Homo sapiens: one gene and its partners. The protein of the gene in region 1 purifies or fractionates together with the protein of each later gene. This does not show direct contact. Each region holds a gene or a part of one and is shown in the gene's direction. Other genes may lie near its edges.

Region 1 (7,030 bases):
TGCCTTTCTGGAGCAAAGGAGGCCCAAAAGAAGTGGGGGATTTGTGACCCTTCCAGGCAGCAGGAACAGCAAGTGCAAAGGTGCTGAGGTGTGTTTGAGACACGGCAGCAAGGCTGGCGAGTGAGGGGCAATGGGGGAGATGAGGTATGAGTATAGAGGAGTCGGGTTAGGAGGGGCCCGGTAGGCTGGCTTTGTGAGGACTCGAGTTTTTTTCTAAGCACAGTAGGAACCCATTAAAAGTTTTGAGCAGAATAGTGATGTACTCTTAGGTTTGTTTTTTTTTTTGAGACAGAGTCTTGGTCTTGCTCTGTCGCCCAGGCTGGAGGGCCATGGTGTGATCTCGGCTCTCTGCAACCTCTGCCTCCTAGGTTCAAGTGATTCTCCTGCCTCCAAGTAGCTGGGATTACAGGTACCCGCCACCACACCCGGCACATTTTTGGTATTTTTAGTAGAGATGGGGTTTCACCATGTTGGTCAGGCTGGTCCTGGACTCCTGACCTCAGGTGGTCCGCCCGCCTAGGCCTCCCAAAGTGCTGGGATTACAGGTGTGAGCCACCGCGCCTGGCCGTGACTTAGTTTGATAGGGTCTTTCTGGCTGCTCTGGGGAGGGGCTGGGGGATGGCAACAGGGAAACCAGGGAGGAGGATATTGGCTTAATTCAGGCAAGAGATGATGGCACCTACATGTCCAGCTGACAGTGGTTAAGCAAAATGTAGTATGTTGGTGAGATGGAACATTAGGTGACCATGGAAAGAAATGAGGCCAGGTGTGGTGGCTCACACCTGTAATCCCAGCACTTTGGAAGGCTGAGGTGGGCGGATCGCCTGAGCCCACAAGTTGGAGATCAGCTTGGGCAACATGGTGAAACCCCATCTCTGTTACAAATACAAAAATTAGTGGTGGCGGGCGCATGTAGCTCCTGCTACTAGGGAGGCTGAGGTGGGAAGATCGCTTGATTGAGCCCGGGAGGCAGAGGTTGAAGTGAGCTTTGATTGGGCCACTGCACTCCAGCCTGGGCAACAGAGCAAGACCTTGTCTCAAAGAGGGGGGAAAAAAAAGGAAGGGAGTACTGATGATGTGGTAGAGCACACTGTGCTGAGTGAAAGAAGCCAGACACAAAATGTCACAAATTATAAGATTTCATTTATGTGAAATGTCCACAACAACAGGCAAATCCATAGAAACAGAAAGCAGATTAGTGGTTGCCCGGGGCTGGGGTGGGGTGTTTAGGGTATGGATACGTAAAGGGTACAGGAGCTTTTATTTCAAGGTGATGAAGTATTCTAAAATTGCACATGTGGTAGTGGTTGCACATGTCTGTGACTACACTAAAAACCACTGAATTATCTGCCTTAAGTGGTGAGTTGTATAGCATGTAAATATCTCTGTGAAGCTTTTCTTTTTTTTTTTTTTTTTTTTTAGGCTGGAGTGAAGCGTGATTTCAGCCCATCACAACCTCCGCCTCCCAGGTTTAAGCAATTTTTCTGCCTCAGCTTCCCGAGTAGCTGGGATTATAGGCGCCTGCCACCATGCCTGGCTAAATTTTTGTATTTTTAGTAGAGTTGGGGTTTCACCATGTTGGTCAGGCTGGTCTCGAACTCCTGACTTCAGGTGACCCACCCGCCTTGGTCTCTCAAAAGTGCTGGGATTACAGGCGTGAGCCACCGCGCGCAGCCTGTAAAGCTGTTCTAGTTAAAAATAATAATAAGGCCAGGCGCGGTGGCTCACACCTGTAATCCCAGCACTTTAGGAGGCTGAGGTGGGTAGATCATGAGGTCAGGAGTTTGAGACCAGCCTGACCAACATGGTGAAACCCTGTCTCTACGAAAACTACAAAAATTAGCTGGGCATGGTGGCAAGCACCTGTAATCCCAGATACTCAGGAGGCTGAGGCAGGAGAATCTTGAACCCTGGAGGTGGAGGTTGCAGTGAGCCGAGGTTGCGCCACTGCACTGCAGCCTGGGTGACAGCAAGACTTCATCTCAATAATAATAATAATAATAATAATAATAATAATAATAATAATAATAAAACAGGTGATAGCAGCTTGGGGCCAGCATGGTAGCATAGGTGAGAACTGGCCAGAGGGCCTTGGTGGGATTCACTGCCTCATGGACAGGGAGGTTGAGAGAGAGAAAACAGCCATTGAGACAATGGAATTGCTGTTTCTGAGCCGGGAATGAGTGACAGCGAGGCCAAAAGTGGCCTAGGATCCTCAGCATCCAGCCTCAGGAAGAATTGTAGCAGCTGTCACCCTCTGCTCCACCCCCCACTGGAGTCTGGGGTAGGGGAGGAGGACGAAAGACAATTGTCCTCATGTTTGGGTCCCTTGCACCCAGCAGGCACTTGGTATGCATTAGATTAATAAAGCAAAGAGGTAGGCAGACTTTGTATTAATTCCATTTTCCATCTTCTCAGCTTTATTTTTATTGGCCCAGGCCCAATAGGAGGCCTTTCATGAGAGCACTTAATTATTCCCCTGTGCAGACCACAGAGAGTGGGAGAAGCTGGGGCTGGACAGATACTGCTTGCTCTCTCGCAAACTCAGTTCCCACCAGCATCCTGGCAGCCCCACCCCTGGGATCTTTGGGCTCCTGCCCCATGAAAGCCCAGTGGGTTCCTTGGGGAGTGATAGGGAGGGGGCTTCTCTGGGCTGAGTAGTCTGAGGAGGTTCACTGGAGCTGAGGCTTGCGTGTGGAGAAGGAGGCATTTGTGCAGAGACCTGGGGGCAGAGCATTCCTGGCGGTGACAGCCAGGTTCAAAGGCTTGGGGCAGGGGCTCCAGGGGTCTGAGCAGCTGAACAAGGCTGGGGGTGGTGTGGGATGAGGTGAGCAGGGGTCAAACCAAGGGGATTGCCTGGCCTGTGGTGAGAGTTGGGATTTTAACTCTGTGAGCCATGGGAAGCCCTTGGAGGTGGAGGGTGTTCTGTCTGTGGGTGTGGCCAGAGGGGCATGGGGGAGAGATGGGGTAGCTTGGGGGTGGGGAGGTGGAGACAGGGCGAAGCTGCGAGGTGCAGCCCAGGTAGAGCTGATGGGCTCACTCATGGAAGGAGGCGGCAGAGAATGCCATTTGAATGAAGCTTCATCATCCTTCTGTGCCCACTCGCGGGACCCTGCCTCTCTCTCTTCTCAGCATCATGGCAGAACAGGATGTGGAAAACGATCTTTTGGATTACGATGAAGAGGAAGAGCCCCAGGCTCCTCAAGAGAGCACACCAGCTCCCCCTAAGAAAGACATCAAGGGATCCTACGTTTCCATCCACAGCTCTGGCTTCCGGGACTTTCTGCTGAAGCCGGAGCTCCTGCGGGCCATCGTGGACTGTGGCTTTGAGCATCCTTCTGAGGGTACGCCTTCTGGGTGTTATCCTCTTGCCCAGGTCCTCACCAAGACAAGACCAGCCCTGCCCGCCCAGAGCGGTGCCGCCTCCAGTTTGCCGTGGGTGAGGGAGGGGCCCGTCTGTCCCGCGGATCAGTTGTGCCCAGCGGGGCCTGTGGCTGCCCTCGGCAGTGGGGCGTTCTGCTTTGACCAGGCGGATACCCCAGCCCTGCAGGTGTCTGTGGCCTTGTCCGGACTCGGCCTCTTCTGATTGCCCTCACTGTGGGCCCCCGGTCAACTGGTGAGGATCCTGCACGGGGGTGCATCCAGGTTCTCGTCCCTCACGCTCTGCTTCTCCTGCAGTCCAGCATGAGTGCATTCCCCAGGCCATCCTGGGCATGGACGTCCTGTGCCAGGCCAAGTCCGGGATGGGCAAGACAGCGGTCTTCGTGCTGGCCACCCTACAGCAGATTGAGCCTGTCAACGGACAGGTGGGTGGGCTCCTCCCTTCCTGGCCCCACCCTGCCTGTGGCGGCGGAAGTAGAGTAGGCTGGATGGGGTGGCTCACACCTGTTAGCCCAGTGCTTTGGGAAGCTGAGGCTGGAGGATTGCTTGAGCCCAGGAAGTCGAGGCTGCAGTGTGCTATGATCACACCACTGCACTCCAGCCTGGGTGGCAGAGGTAGACTCCATCTCAAAAAATAATTAGTTATAACAAAAATTAGAAATTGCCAATAAGCCAAAATAACTGGAAAGTGCCCACAGTTTGCCCCTTGCCCCAGAGGCATCGTTGCTGTTTTGCCGTGCCACTTACCTAGAGAGTGTCCATCTGTGAAGGTTGGGTTGCCCCGAATATAGCTGTCACCACTGTCCTTGCTGTTAGGCCCTGGCTGTCTTCTCCCATTGTCTTGTGTGCCACTGTCCTGGGGAGACACTTCAGTGAATTCTGGTGTCTTGCTCCCGAGTCAGGCCAGGTGCACATCTTTGGGCTTCATATTGGCGCCCGTGCCCTCGTTATCTCAGAGCACATCCTGAAGGATGAAGGTGCTGTGGAGGGCTGTGGTGTGGTCCAGTGTCTGATGGCACGGGTGGGAAGACCGGGGCCGCCCGAGTGCCGAGATTCAGGAAATCCTTAGAGAGCCAGGTCCCATGTCACCCAGGCAGGCCAGGTCTAACCATTACATTATGCGGGCCATTTTCTGTTCCATTTTCTGTTTCTTATTGTGGGTCCTGGTGTTGGGAGACAGGTTTCAATAGCTGTGGGAGGGTATAGGGAGTGAGGGGTGGGGAAGGGCCGTGAGAAGTGGGAGGCATTTGGACCGGGCCTTCAAATGGCCTGTGATGTTGGGTGCAGTGTCAGGGGGACTGGGTTGGGTGGACTCTGGTGGGGAAGGGGTTTAGGACACTGCCTAAGGTAAGGCCCTCTTCTTATGCCACTTCCCAGGTGACGGTCCTGGTCATGTGCCACACGAGGGAGCTGGCCTTCCAGATCAGCAAGGAATATGAGCGCTTTTCCAAGTACATGCCCAGCGTCAAGGTGAGTCCCTCGGGCCAGACTGGACCAGGCGCCACTTGGTTTCTGCAGCTTTGTTAGCCTCGGCTCTGGCCCAGCCAGCATTTACCAAGCTTGGCAGGGGCAGCTGCCTTTGAGGTTTGCGGTGGTTTTTGCTCCTTAAAAGCCTGATGAATTATGCATGGCTCCCAGGGGCCTGCGCAGGTCCCAGCCTGGGGCTGCCTTTGAGTGGAGCCCCGGGAGGCTCTCAGGCCTGCCTTGGTCCCCTGAGGCCTCCTGTTCGCAGGTGCTGGGCCGTGCAGGTTGGGGCCTTGGGCCGTGTATCAGCATGGAGCGGTTTCCTCCTCATCCCCATAGGTGTCTGTGTTCTTCGGTGGTCTCTCCATCAAGAAGGATGAAGAAGTGTTGAAGAAGAACTGTCCCCATGTCGTGGTGGGGACCCCGGGCCGCATCCTGGCGCTCGTGCGGAATAGGAGCTTCAGCCTAAAGAATGTGAAGCACTTTGTGCTGGACGAGTGTGACAAGATGCTGGAGCAGCTGGGTGAGTCCTCTGCCCTTGCAGCCCCAGCTGAGAGTCAGTGACTAGGCGGGCCCCATAGCAGGCGGAAGGCTCTTGAGTGGGTTACATGGGCGGCCGGCAGGCGGGGCTCCTGTGGTGATCTTGGGGAAAGCTCTGCTGCTGGCAGAGGGATGTGCTGTTTCTGAGCCCGAGCCGAATGGGACCACGGGGCCCAAGCAAGCCCCCGTCCCTCCTGGACGTAAAGGCATGCACACATACCTCTGGGAGTATGAGGCTTCTGCCACCTGTTGGGTTGGTTCCAGGCCCCGCCTGCCCTCAGTGAGCCCCGACAGGGCCGGTGGGAGATGGGCTTGTGTCCTGGGAGGCAGCTGCAGCTCTCACCCCAGCGGCTGTCTCTGCCTCAGGCTCCCCTCCCTGAAGCGTGGCTCGAGGCGCACGGGCACGGCTGCTCCGCGCCAGCGTGTAAGTGGATTGCAGCTCCTCCCGCGCCTGCGCTCGCTGGCCACCCCCCAGCCCCTCAGGCACCAGGACTGGCCACTCCCGCGGCTCACTCTGCCCTCGTCACGGTGCCACTGGCTCCCTGGCACAGGTTGGGAGGGGTCTGGGTCTGGTCTGGGGTGGGGGTCCTGCATGGCAGACGCTCATGCCCACCCATGTCTTGCCCTCCCCACCTAGACATGCGGCGGGATGTGCAGGAGATCTTCCGCCTGACACCACACGAGAAGCAGTGCATGATGTTCAGCGCCACCCTGAGCAAGGACATCCGGCCTGTGTGCAGGAAGTTCATGCAGGATGTGAGTAGGGCGAGAGTGGCAGCTTTGGCCTTCCCCAGGGGCCTGGAGCCTGGGGCCCCAGGACACCCGCACGGCCCACATGGCACGGAGGATGCTGGGATGCTGGGAGCCGGCGGAGCCTCCTTTCCTCCCCTCGGTCTTGTCAAACTGGGAGTCAAGCTTGGTCCACACCTGAGTCGGGCCAGAGCTTACATCCAGCTTTTGAGCGATGTTTACTGAGGTCTGGTGCAGCAGGTCCTCTGGGAAGTGTCGCACAAAGGAGTCGCCCACTGGAAGGTTCTGGGCAGGCGAGATGCCCAGAGGTGATCCCTGCCCGCCCCTCCCACCTCCCTTCCCACACAGCCCATGGAGGTGTTTGTGGACGACGAGACCAAGCTCACGCTGCACGGCCTGCAGCAGTACTACGTCAAACTCAAAGACAGTGAGAAGAACCGCAAGCTCTTTGATCTCTTGGATGTGCTGGAGTTTAACCAGGTGATACTTCCATCAGCCTGTCCTGGGGCTCAGGACCTTCGGGAGGTCACTGGGCCACAGGGACTGTGTGGCCCTGACTGCCACTCCTTCCCTCAGGTGATAATCTTCGTCAAGTCAGTGCAGCGCTGCATGGCCCTGGCCCAGCTCCTCGTGGAGCAGAACTTCCCGGCCATCGCCATCCACCGGGGCATGGCCCAGGAGGAGCGGTGAGTGCGAGCCGCCCGCCAAGGCTGCAGGGAGCACCACCAGGAGCCCAGTGTCTGACGGCCTCCACTTGTTTCTCCTGCACCCCAGCCTGTCACGCTATCAGCAGTTCAAGGATTTCCAGCGGCGGATCCTGGTGGCCACCAATCTGTTTGGCCGGGGGATGGACATCGAGCGAGTCAACATCGTCTTTAACTACGACATGCCTGAG
Region 2 (7,030 bases), on another chromosome or scaffold:
GCCTTGATTTAAGGGAACGCTGAGATTGGGTGACTTGCTCCTGGTCTCATCACACCCGGTTTAGAGGTGAGGCTGGGCCTAGAACCTGGTCTCTCCCCCACTGAGCGAGTTCCTTTTCTGAGCTGCAGCAAGTACTTTTCTCCCCAGGCATTAAGGGGAAGACACAGAAGAGCTGGGGGAACTGGAGGGGGTTGAGTTCTGAGATGGGGTGCTCCAGAAAACCATTGCACCTGTATGGGCCTGGGCAGAATGGCTCCGCCTCCGCCCAGCTGCTGGTAAAAGAGGATCCTGGCTAGGCGGCTTCCCTGTTGGCCTGTCAGCCAAGGTCTTTACACATCCTGCTCCCTGGGATGCTCACTGTCTCTGCTCTATGCTCCTGACCCCTCCCTTCAGGCTCCTGTGTCTTCTCAGGACACCCCCTGCTCCCCTTCCCTGTGGGCCTTTCCTTCCTAGATGCCCAGGCCCTGCTCCTTGTCCTCCAGGGCCATGCCCACTGGCTCTGCCAGCAGCCATAGGCAGGCCCCACTCCTTCCCCGCTGCATCTTCCTGCCCAGAACTTGCCAGACTTGACTTCTCTCTGCTGCTGCTAGGGGTGGGGGGAAGGGGAGGGACGGGCTTGGGGGAGGGGAGAGAAGTCTTTGTCCAGGAGGATGGTGGGGGGGGTTGGGAGGGGGGGGGTTAGAGCAGGCGAACAACAGTTTCCATGGAAACAAGAGCCAGTCACTAGGCACAGGAGCTGAGAACCTATCTCTAGAATCTGGGAATGGGGAGGGAGAGAAGGGTGGATTTTCCCATCTGATGTTGGAGTTTTCAGCTCCTCTGTTGAATTCTTGTCTGCTCTCAGGGCTCAGTTTCCCACTCTCAGCATGTCCCAGGTGCACAGAGGTCCTTAGTCTGGACCGCAGGGCTCAAGGTGGGAGTCCTCTGCCCCATTCCTGGGGGCTCCCCAGCTTCTCTCTCATACTCTTCCATAACCCAGACAAATCTAAGTGGAAGCCTGGTCCCATCCCCAGGGAGGGAAACTGATCTCAGTGCCTGAGAGGGACAAAAGCACCAGTGGGAAGGAGGGAGGAGGGAGGCTCCCAGCCCTCCCGCTGTCCTGCAGGCCCATCTGCTTGTGCACATTTACCCTCTTGGGGGCCAGGACACCCCCAGGTGTGCTTGGTAGTGTGACATCGAAGGCTCCCGGGATCCGGGCCTTACAACCAAGTGTCCCAGCAGGCCTGTGCTTATGAAACCCAAATGGGGTAGGGAAGGTGCTGGGGACTCCGAGGAACTTGCAGGGGAGCAGTGCGTGGAGCTGTGGCGAGAGCGGCTCAGTGAGCCAAACAGGGTGCCCATGAAGGGCTGGGGACCATAGGTCTCAGAGAAGATGGCACACGAGAGGAAGTGGGGATGCCTGGGAGGTTTGGGGAGTATTACGAGGGTCACGGGAGGCCATGGGAGCTATCACTGGGTTGTGGGGGGTCTCAGTTCCCCTCCTGTCCTCAGGTACTTGGTACTCACCTGCCTTTCCTCTTGTCCAGGTGAGCACTGTGAGGTGAGTGCTCGCTCAGGCCGTTGCACCCCGGGTGTCTGCAAGAATGGGGGCACCTGTGTCAACCTGCTGGTGGGCGGTTTCAAGTGCGATTGCCCATCTGGAGACTTCGAGAAGCCCTACTGCCAGGTGACCACGCGCAGCTTCCCCGCCCACTCCTTCATCACCTTTCGCGGCCTGCGCCAGCGTTTCCACTTCACCCTGGCCCTCTCGTGAGTGGCTGGGCACTGGGGGTGGGGAGTGGGCCTGGTGGGCATCTGAGGTGCCTCCTGTTCTGTGGTTGAAGTAAGAGGTCAGGCAGTGAAAGCGTGGAGCAGGCTGCCGGCAGAGCCAGGTCTGCTCTTGGAGTTGCCTGTGGTTCTGCCAGCAGATCTCCCTCCCCTGCGCTGGTTAGGTGGCGGGGGTGCTGGCATCCAGGTGGGTACCCCATTCCCTGCCCCCATCCCCAACTCCTGTTCAGGTTTGCCACAAAGGAGCGCGACGGGTTGCTGTTGTACAATGGGCGTTTCAATGAGAAGCATGACTTTGTGGCCCTCGAGGTGATCCAGGAGCAGGTCCAGCTCACCTTCTCTGCAGGTGATCACAGTTGCCCCCCATCCTTGCCCATCTTCCAAAGGCCCCAAGTCTTCCAGCCCCTGACCCCAAGCCACATACTCTATCAGCCAAATCTGGGCCCAGCCCCAGCCACTGGCACCCCAAACCCTGCCATTCCTAGCCCTCGTCAGGCATTCCAGCTCACCTGGTCCTTTCCCCAGGGGAGTCAACCACCACGGTGTCCCCATTCGTGCCCGGAGGAGTCAGTGATGGCCAGTGGCATACGGTGCAGCTGAAATACTACAATAAGGTGGGTGTGGAGGGCACAGAGGGTTGGGGGTTCTGTTCTTGCCTCAGGTGCTTACCCAGCCCTGAGTGGCATTGCCTCCAGGCTTGGGTGGGCTGGTCAGGGCATTTCTGGCTGAGAGGAAGGGAGCGGCTGGGAAGGTGCCACCTTGCTGGGCATTCCCACCCCACTGGGCACTGCTCGATGCTCTCTGTTCCACTAGGCAGCCGCAAACTTGGACACTGAGGAAGGTAGTTACATGCATAAACCACGTGAGCACACGTGTGTGTATATGCATGTGTGTACGTGTGTCTGGGCATGTGGGTGCACACAGAGGCACCCAGTGTGTGCTGGCCATGAACCTAGTGGGCTCTGTACTCAGTGTCCCCCTTCTCTGCTCTTTCCTGTCCACAGCCACTGTTGGGTCAGACAGGGCTCCCACAGGGCCCATCAGAGCAGAAGGTGGCTGTGGTGACCGTGGATGGCTGTGACACAGGAGTGGCCTTGCGCTTCGGATCTGTCCTGGGCAACTACTCCTGTGCTGCCCAGGGCACCCAGGGTGGCAGCAAGAAGTGAGCAGGGGAAAGGGCCAGGGATGGGGTGAAGTGAGGGCAGGGCCAGGCAGGGAGGGAAGGTGGAGAGGGTGGGCTTTTGGGGTCTCTCTCCCTTTGCCTCTCTTAGCCCCTGCTCAGCCCTGGGGATGGGGTCAAGACTGGGGAATCAGAGCAAGGCCCTGTGGGGCAGTCTGGGGAGGGGGCTGAGTGTTCGACAAGAACAGTTCCAGGTAGGGGTGACGCCCTTCCTGAGCACTGCTCTGCAGGGCCTCTTGGACACCTGCCTACGCCGTTCGTGTCTCTGGCCTGGCGGCAGAGCGAGCGGAGGACCAGAAGCTCCCAGCCCTCCCTTGTGCCGCCACCATCTTTGCTCCCCCAGGTCTCTGGATCTGACGGGGCCCCTGCTACTAGGCGGGGTGCCTGACCTGCCCGAGAGCTTCCCAGTCCGAATGCGGCAGTTCGTGGGCTGCATGCGGAACCTGCAGGTGGACAGCCGGCACATAGACATGGCTGACTTCATTGCCAACAATGGCACCGTGCCTGGTATGGGGGCCCGGGGTGGAGCCAGGCTGGGATCCCAGTGCTGAGAGGAGGGGCTGTGCCTGGTGTGAGGATGCCAGAATGGAGGGTCTCAGAGGCCTCTCTAACTGCTGCCACAGGCTTTCTCTTTAGAGCCCCAGCTCAGGTCCACTGAGCTGCCTTCTCTCCATTCCAGGCTGCCCTGCCAAGAAGAACGTGTGTGACAGCAACACTTGCCACAATGGGGGCACTTGCGTGAACCAGTGGGACGCGTTCAGCTGCGAGTGCCCCCTGGGCTTTGGGGGCAAGAGCTGCGCCCAGGGTAGGAGGGGCGGCTGTTAGAGGCCACAGCCTGGGTGCCATCAACAGTCTGGGAACTGGCAGGGTTGGGGCAGGCACTGGGCAGGGCTCTGCTGAGCGGGGCTGTGGGTGGAAAAGCGTGTCTGGGCAGAGCCCTGAAAGGGCAACACAGGAGACAAAGGGGCCAGTCAGAGGCAGGCCTGGGCACAGCGTGGGGCGGTCCCAGGGCAGGTACGCACTTTGGAGGGCGGGGCTGATGAGGGGAGTGGGCTCTGCCTCCCGTGCAGCCGCCACCGCTGAGCATCACAGCCCCAGGGCCCTCTGAGGCTCCACCCGTCACAGTCTGCCTTTTCCTGCCTCCCCAGAAATGGCCAATCCACAGCACTTCCTGGGCAGCAGCCTGGTGGCCTGGCATGGCCTCTCGCTGCCCATCTCCCAACCCTGGTACCTCAGCCTCATGTTCCGCACGCGCCAGGCCGACGGTGTCCTGCTGCAGGCCATCACCAGGGGGCGCAGCACCATCACCCTACAGGTGATGCATGGAAGGGCGGCTGGCCCTGGCCTGGCCATAGGGCCCTGGTAGCCTCTAGGCGGCTGGACAGAAGTGGCTGGGCAGGTCCTGGGCAGGGGTGGGGACATATAGAGGCCGCTGGATCCGTTGGGAAGGTCAATGCTGCCACCTGTTGGGCCTGAGGGAAATAAATACGCTTTCCTCTCTATGGCCTCAGCTGGGCAGCGGGATGGGTTTGATGGTCCAGAAAGGGGAACTGTGAGCTGGAGAACAGTGATTAAGGCCGTCTGCTGACCCTGTTTTCTTTCCTCCTGGTGTCAGCTACGAGAGGGCCACGTGATGCTGAGCGTGGAGGGCACAGGGCTTCAGGCCTCCTCTCTCCGTCTGGAGCCAGGCCGGGCCAATGACGGTGACTGGCACCATGCACAGCTGGCACTGGGAGCCAGCGGGGGGCCCGGCCATGCCATTCTGTCCTTCGATTATGGGCAGCAGAGAGCAGAGGGCAACCTGGGCCCCCGGCTGCATGGTCTGCACCTGAGCAACATAACAGTGGGCGGAATACCTGGGCCAGCCGGCGGTGTGGCCCGTGGCTTTCGGGGCTGTTTGCAGGTGAGTGTCCTGCCCTGCCCTCCCATCCCCTCCCCCACCACCTGCAGCCCCGCTCCACTGAGGGCAACACTGCTCCTGTCCCTCCCAGGGTGTGCGGGTGAGCGATACGCCGGAGGGGGTTAACAGCCTGGATCCCAGCCATGGGGAGAGCATCAACGTGGAGCAAGGCTGTAGCCTGCCTGACCCTTGTGACTCAAACCCGTGTCCTGCTAACAGCTATTGCAGCAACGACTGGGACAGCTATTCCTGCAGCTGTGATCCAGGTATGCTAAGGATCCAGGGCAACGGGCAGGTTATCAGGTGCCTGGGGCCACATGCTGGCTCTGCTGTGTGACCTGGGGCATGGGGCATCACACCACCTCTCTGAGTCTTAGTTGCCTACACAACAAAGCCATAGCCAGCTGATAGGATGCTATGTGGAAAGAAACAGATGAAGGGTTTGATGGAAGATGGTGCCAGGGGAGGGTGGGGGAATGAGCCTCTCTGGTCCTTCTGGTCCCAGGTTACTATGGTGACAACTGTACTAATGTGTGTGACCTGAACCCGTGTGAGCACCAGTCTGTGTGTACCCGCAAGCCCAGTGCCCCCCATGGCTATACCTGCGAGTGTCCCCCAAATTACCTTGGGCCATACTGTGAGACCAGGTAAGCAGACCAGGGCATGTGGCAGCAGGTCCCAGTGGCTGCTGCTTCTCTCTGGTGTGTCCCTCAGAGCCCCGAAAGCCTGGCTGATCCACAGCCAGGGTCAGAAGGGCCACATAGGGCTCACCTAGGTTAGGTGGGAGTGGCAGGGGGAGCTCATGCCTACCTGGGTCCCTCTCTGCAGGATTGACCAGCCTTGTCCCCGTGGCTGGTGGGGACATCCCACATGTGGCCCATGCAACTGTGATGTCAGCAAAGGCTTTGACCCAGACTGCAACAAGACAAGCGGCGAGTGCCACTGCAAGGTGACAGCCCCAAGCAAGCCTCCACTGTGGCCACTTGGGCCTCTGTCCACATCTCCTGGGCCCTAGAGGGCAGGCTGTAGGGATGGGTCTTCCTGTAGAGCTGAGGGCCTTGTGCCTTTGCTCTCACAGGCAGGGCAGTTGGCTGCTTACCTTCGTGTGTCTGAGGCGCAGGGGGACCCTGGGCCAATGTGTAACCCATGAGCTCTGGCCTGGTGTGGTGGTGGTTTGCAGCCTGTTCTGATTCTGTGACATCTCGCTGATGGGCTCAACTCCAAAGCATTGCTAGTGTTAATTATTTTGAATACTGCTCCTGAGGGGACCTGAGGTCGGGACCCTCTCCACAGGGGCCACAGCTGAGAAGGACCCATGAGCATCCTGGGAAGAGAGCCTGGCCAGTGACACCGTTCTTCCCTCCTTTCTCAGGAGAACCACTACCGGCCCCCAGGCAGCCCCACCTGCCTCTTGTGTGACTGCTACCCCACAGGCTCCTTGTCCAGAGTCTGTGACCCTGAGGATGGCCAGTGTCCATGCAAGCCAGGTGTCATCGGGCGTCAGTGTGACCGCTGTGACAACCCTTTTGCTGAGGTCACCACCAATGGCTGTGAAGGTGGGGCTCCTGGGATGGGTGGGCAGCCCTCCTTACAGTGTGCTAGGCACCTGCACCCCAGGAAAGCCAGGAAGGGGCTGGTTGCAGGCCTGGGGAGGCCTGGGGAGGCCTAGGGAGGGCTGGGGAGCCTGGGCAGGACAGCAGAGGGAGAGCTGCTCCTGGGTGACCATGTGCTCTTCCCCGCAGTGAATTATGACAGCTGCCCACGAGCGATTGAGGCTGGGATCTGGTGGCCCCGTACCCGCTTCGGGCTGCCTGCTGCTGCTCCCTGTCCCAAAGGCTCCTTTGGTAGGTGTTGGAGGCCCCGATGTGATGTCGAGGACATGGCCTCTGCTGTTAGTGGGATGAGGGCAGGAAGCTCCTGGCTGAAGATCCGGGGACCCCACTTTCTGGCCTCCAGGTCCTGGGATTTCATTTCCCATCTTCCTTGGTTCACATTCCCCCTTCCCCATGTTGCCCAGGTGTGCCTACATCTTGGACTGTTTTGTTTTGTTTTGGTTTGGTTTTTTTTCTGGGACAGAGTCTGTCACTGTCACCCAGGCTGGTGTGCAGTGGCGTGATCTCCGCTCGCTGCAACCTCTGCCTCCCAGGTTCAAGCAATTTTCCTGCCTAAGCCTCTGGCCGCCA
Region 3 (4,186 bases), on another chromosome or scaffold:
ACCCTGGGATTCCCTTCTCATCTGTGGGCTTTGGCCATGATTTCCAAAATTAACAGGAGAATCATTCCACTGGAAATATAACAATCCAGTCCTCAAAACTGAAAGTTGACAGGTTGAGGGACTTTCCTTTTTTGCTTCAATCAGATTACGGCCGCCTGTGCAGTGGCCATGGTAAATATATGCATATTTGCACTATCTGCTTAATGAGCAAATCTGTGTCCACAGTTTCTGATGACATATGGCATTGGTGTGTAAATTGTACTGTCCCTAGTCTGTGCATTATTCACTCAGACATATTTTTAGTTATTTCAATTGCGTTTAATCCACTTCTTTTTTATGAGTCAGTGTTTCTGAATGTTTATGCAAAAAAAAAAATCCTTTTTCATTCCCAAACTTTCTAAGTAAGTGGATACACTACACTTCACAAGTTTTCCAGCCTTTCTCTTCCTGTCTCTTGGTCAGACCTACTCATGGAGGTATTATCCACACTGTGATCTTGAAATAAATGAATTTCACTAAGGCTGCTTTCGAGAACAAAGTCTTTGGTATTTTTCTTATGTAAGAAGCACATTTGCAAGAATCATGGAAAAAAATGACAAACTAATGGCCTAGAATAGAGTGACTGCTACACTTTAAGTAATGCAATGACATAAAAACCATCAAAGTAAAACCAACATGTCATTTCCTGCCCCCAGGAAATATTAGAATGAGATTAATGCTGATGAGTCCCTACTGCTTACACAGCATCTCTTTGAGGGAGAATGCCTGACTGACACAGTAATGAAAGAATAAATAGATCCTAATGCAGTCATGAAGCCACTGAAGAAAATTGTGCCCACCCTTTGCTGTGACCTATATAAAATATCTCTTTCTTTGGGATATCATCCCCTGATTTTCTGCAGAATAGCTCTGCAGCTAAATATATACCAGGCAAGCATGTATTGTGTTTTGATTTATTATCTTTAAACACATGATATCTCTTCACTTTTTGGAAAGTTAGATTTCTCTGTAGATTATGAAATGCTTTGCAGTCAGGCCAAGATGCTACTAGGTGGGGATGATCACTAATTCAAAAAAGCTGGAAGAATCCTATTTGCTAGTCCAAACTCCTTATTTTATCAAAGAGGAAACATACCCAGAGTGGGAAAGAGACTTGCCCAAGCCCACAGAGGAAGTTAATTCGCTTAACAAGGAGTAGAACCCATCCATCTAGCCAATATTCTTTTTACATCATATTGTTCACCCCTACACTGCCTTGAGCATGGGAGTCACCTGGTTCTGATGGACCCTCTGACTTCCACCATTCCTTCTTTGGAATATGCTATAAAAGAAAATTCATGGAGAATATTTTTCTGAAAGCCTCATGATCTTATGTTTCCTTGCAGTCCCCCTAGGGAGAGGGGTTATAGAATTCATACATTTCTGTAGACATTCATCGAAATGCTGCTTTTGCCAAATGAATGTTTGTATAATAGGGATGAAATGATAATTACAGAGTTCAGCTCAGACCAGTCATCAGTTGTAGTGAAACTTTGATTATACTGTTACCTACTGGTTGCATTTTTGGTTTTGGTTTTGCATTTTTTTCTTCCCACAAACACTGGCTACTCTTTGTCCTACCCCCTCCACCATGATGAACCATGTGGAAACTATTTAAATCAATTAATGTCTTTCTCATTTTTCGAACATGTATGTGCCACCTCCTGGAAGCCATTTCCCATAATCTGTTGTAGGCACTTTACTAGTATTGCACACATTCTGGTTAGGTTGAGAATAGCTAGACTCTTGGTGCTCGTCATATAGTAAGCAAGAACTTGGGAGTAATAAAAGGTGAATAAAATGCATGCTTCATTTATTCCCTTTCCTCTATGAATATTTTGCTGCTGCATTCTAGTCTATGCCAGCTTTCCATGTACCCTTGGCCTGCCTATTCATGAAATGCCATATAAAAGACTTAGGAACATGAGTAGGTGGTCCATGCTTTGAGGTTCATCCAATTAGGGAATAAATGTGAAAGGCTGGAAAGGGAACTAGTTTCTGGGATTTGCCTGGAACTTCCCTTGGACATTACTAGCACATTCTGGAAAAAAAGCAAGTTGAACATATCTACCATCAGTCCTCTCCTACTTACTTCCCACCCCACCCTATCCACTACCCCCACTGATGCTATGTTTGCATCATCAAAGTCAGGGGAATTGAGAAAAGAGATTATCAAAATAAATTATTAAAATCCAGAAAACAGTTTTATGTGAAGTAATTCAGGAAGATCTAGTGTTCATTTTGCATGGATTGTCCAGATAATTGGCTCTTCACTCCGCTGCCTTCCCAGTGCACAGGTATTGCTAAAGTGGTTAGGCTTTAATGTTTTATGTTTTTAGTTTCAAACTATGGGAAATGGAGATTTGAAGAGGCATTTATTCCTTGTCATCATTTTGTGTGCTCTGTGAGAAGGTGGTTATATGTTTTTGCTGGTTTGTGTCCCACAGTGTTCAACTGCACATTATTCTGATGAAAATCCACAATGTCTTTGAGCTTCTGGTTGTGTAATGCTGGGGTTTAAAGTCACCATTTGTGGGTTTGGCATCAATTAATATTTAGCCAGCTGGCTAAGAGATAGGAAAAGAATATGATATTTCTTTCCTTATGTAATAATGAAAAGCAATAATTACAAGTAGGTAATAATACACAAAGGCCATAATTAGTCTCTTCTAGTGTTTAGAATGCACTTGAGAATCGTAGAGTCATTTGGAGCGTGTTTGGACCAATTAGTATGTACTGTAGTACCCTTCTGGCAAACAAATAACTGAATTGCTACTATTTAACAATCTTATGAGCCCACACTACTGCATTTTGGGAGTGGCAAATGTGTTTGGAAATGGAAGCAGTTCTTTTTAAGCACTGTATCAGAGAGATTGTCTTGTACGTTTGCCTGTTGCAAACAGGCTGGTTTGTAAAAGATGTATGTTTTGGTGTTTGAAATGTTTATAAAATTGTATATAAATGGTTTCAATTTTCCAGGCTTTTGTAGATACTATATTTGATGCCTATCAGGATGCTTTAATTTGGGGGGTCGAATATAATTGTAAGTCATCCACGCTGTTGGTCTGCAAACTTTTGAGGTAACTACACACACACACACACACACAAGGATTTTAGATTTGAAAATGATGTTTTTTACTCATTTCAAAATGTACTGTAACCTTTCTTTGGTTCTTACTGTTTTCATTTAACTTTCTCTGTTTTCAAGAAAAATTGTCTTTATTGACATTTGTAAAAAAGAATGTGTTTTGCCCAGTTATTAAGTATTTTATTTTTATGCAATTTCAGAATCACAATGAGGTATGCCATTTCTTCATATACATGCACATTCACCTCAACTTGCACACACATCACACACCAAACCTTATGCAAAGGGGAAAGCTAACACTTAGAGTGGATTTTGTCCCTTAAGGAAATGGATTGTTCCTGCATATATTGCTGGTGGCAGTATTCAGTCTTGTGTTCTTTTTCTAAAAAAAAAGAAAAGAAAAGAAAAAAAAAACAAAAGCAAACAAAAAAAAAGACAGCCAAAAAAAAGAAACAACAACAACAAAAAAAAACACAACAGTGTACAGGTTTGTAACTGCCAAAATTTGATGGTTAAAACAAGTTTTCAAGTAAAAAGAAAAAAATGAAACTAGCAATTGTGTTGACTCTTTTTAAGTGTTTCCTTTTCTTTGTCTTTAGTTCATTGCTCGCATGGTATTTAGAGGTGTATTCCACAGGGCATGGTAGAAAGACGTGGTACAGAGCAAAAAAGCTCTTTAGCCCTAGTCTACCTCTCAAAGAGAGGGGTCTCTGGTCTGACAGGGACATTTTAGTTTTGTTGTGTTAGTGTGGCTTCCCCAACCCCCTGAGACTTTTTACCTCCAGAAAAACTTCTATCTGTCCTGGTACACATGTTGAAATCTTATGTAACTTCTTACTGAGCACACGCCTTGTGAGATTTTTTCCCTGGTGGGAAAATTGAAAAGAGTGCTGGAGGCTTGAACAAATAAAGATCATCGAGTCCTACATCTGTGGAAATCTAAGCACATCCCCACCTCTTCTAGACAGCAGCTCCAGCACTCCTCTCCCTCAAAAATAAATAAATAAATAAATAAGGTTTTTTCCAAAAGTTTTCCAAAGGTTTGGGGCACAATTGAGT

What was found. Proteins that work in one complex are often made in the same cells at the same time.
Region 2: the proteins of DDX39A (region 1) and CELSR2 purify together in Homo sapiens (affinity purification with mass spectrometry; 2 studies listed by BioGRID and IntAct, with this or other methods). This does not show direct contact.
Region 3: the proteins of DDX39A (region 1) and FAT3 purify together in Homo sapiens (affinity purification with mass spectrometry; 2 studies listed by BioGRID and IntAct, with this or other methods). This does not show direct contact.

Annotation. Positions count from the first base shown.
Region 1 is NC_000019.10:14,409,327-14,416,356, reverse strand, and holds part of DDX39A (ATP-dependent RNA helicase DDX39A), read left to right. Parts: intron 1-3,132; 5' UTR 3,133-3,136; coding exon 3,137-3,344; intron 3,345-3,678; coding exon 3,679-3,806; intron 3,807-4,758; coding exon 4,759-4,851; intron 4,852-5,184; coding exon 5,185-5,368; intron 5,369-6,022; coding exon 6,023-6,141; intron 6,142-6,483; coding exon 6,484-6,615; intron 6,616-6,711; coding exon 6,712-6,821; intron 6,822-6,909; coding exon 6,910-7,030. UniProt on the Homo sapiens protein: Helicase that plays an essential role in mRNA export and is involved in multiple steps in RNA metabolism including alternative splicing. Regulates nuclear mRNA export to the cytoplasm through association with ECD.
Region 2 is NC_000001.11:109,259,516-109,266,545, forward strand, and holds part of CELSR2 (cadherin EGF LAG seven-pass G-type receptor 2 precursor), read left to right. Parts: intron 1-1,526; coding exon 1,527-1,749; intron 1,750-1,997; coding exon 1,998-2,113; intron 2,114-2,292; coding exon 2,293-2,381; intron 2,382-2,771; coding exon 2,772-2,929; intron 2,930-3,290; coding exon 3,291-3,454; intron 3,455-3,626; coding exon 3,627-3,752; intron 3,753-4,095; coding exon 4,096-4,262; intron 4,263-4,562; coding exon 4,563-4,850; intron 4,851-4,938; coding exon 4,939-5,113; intron 5,114-5,352; coding exon 5,353-5,494; intron 5,495-5,675; coding exon 5,676-5,796; intron 5,797-6,219; coding exon 6,220-6,403; intron 6,404-6,589; coding exon 6,590-6,691; intron 6,692-7,030. UniProt on the Homo sapiens protein: Receptor that may have an important role in cell/cell signaling during nervous system formation.
Region 3 is NC_000011.10:92,892,795-92,896,980, forward strand, and holds the end of FAT3 (protocadherin Fat 3 isoform 1 precursor), read left to right. Parts: 3' UTR 1-3,679; downstream 3,680-4,186.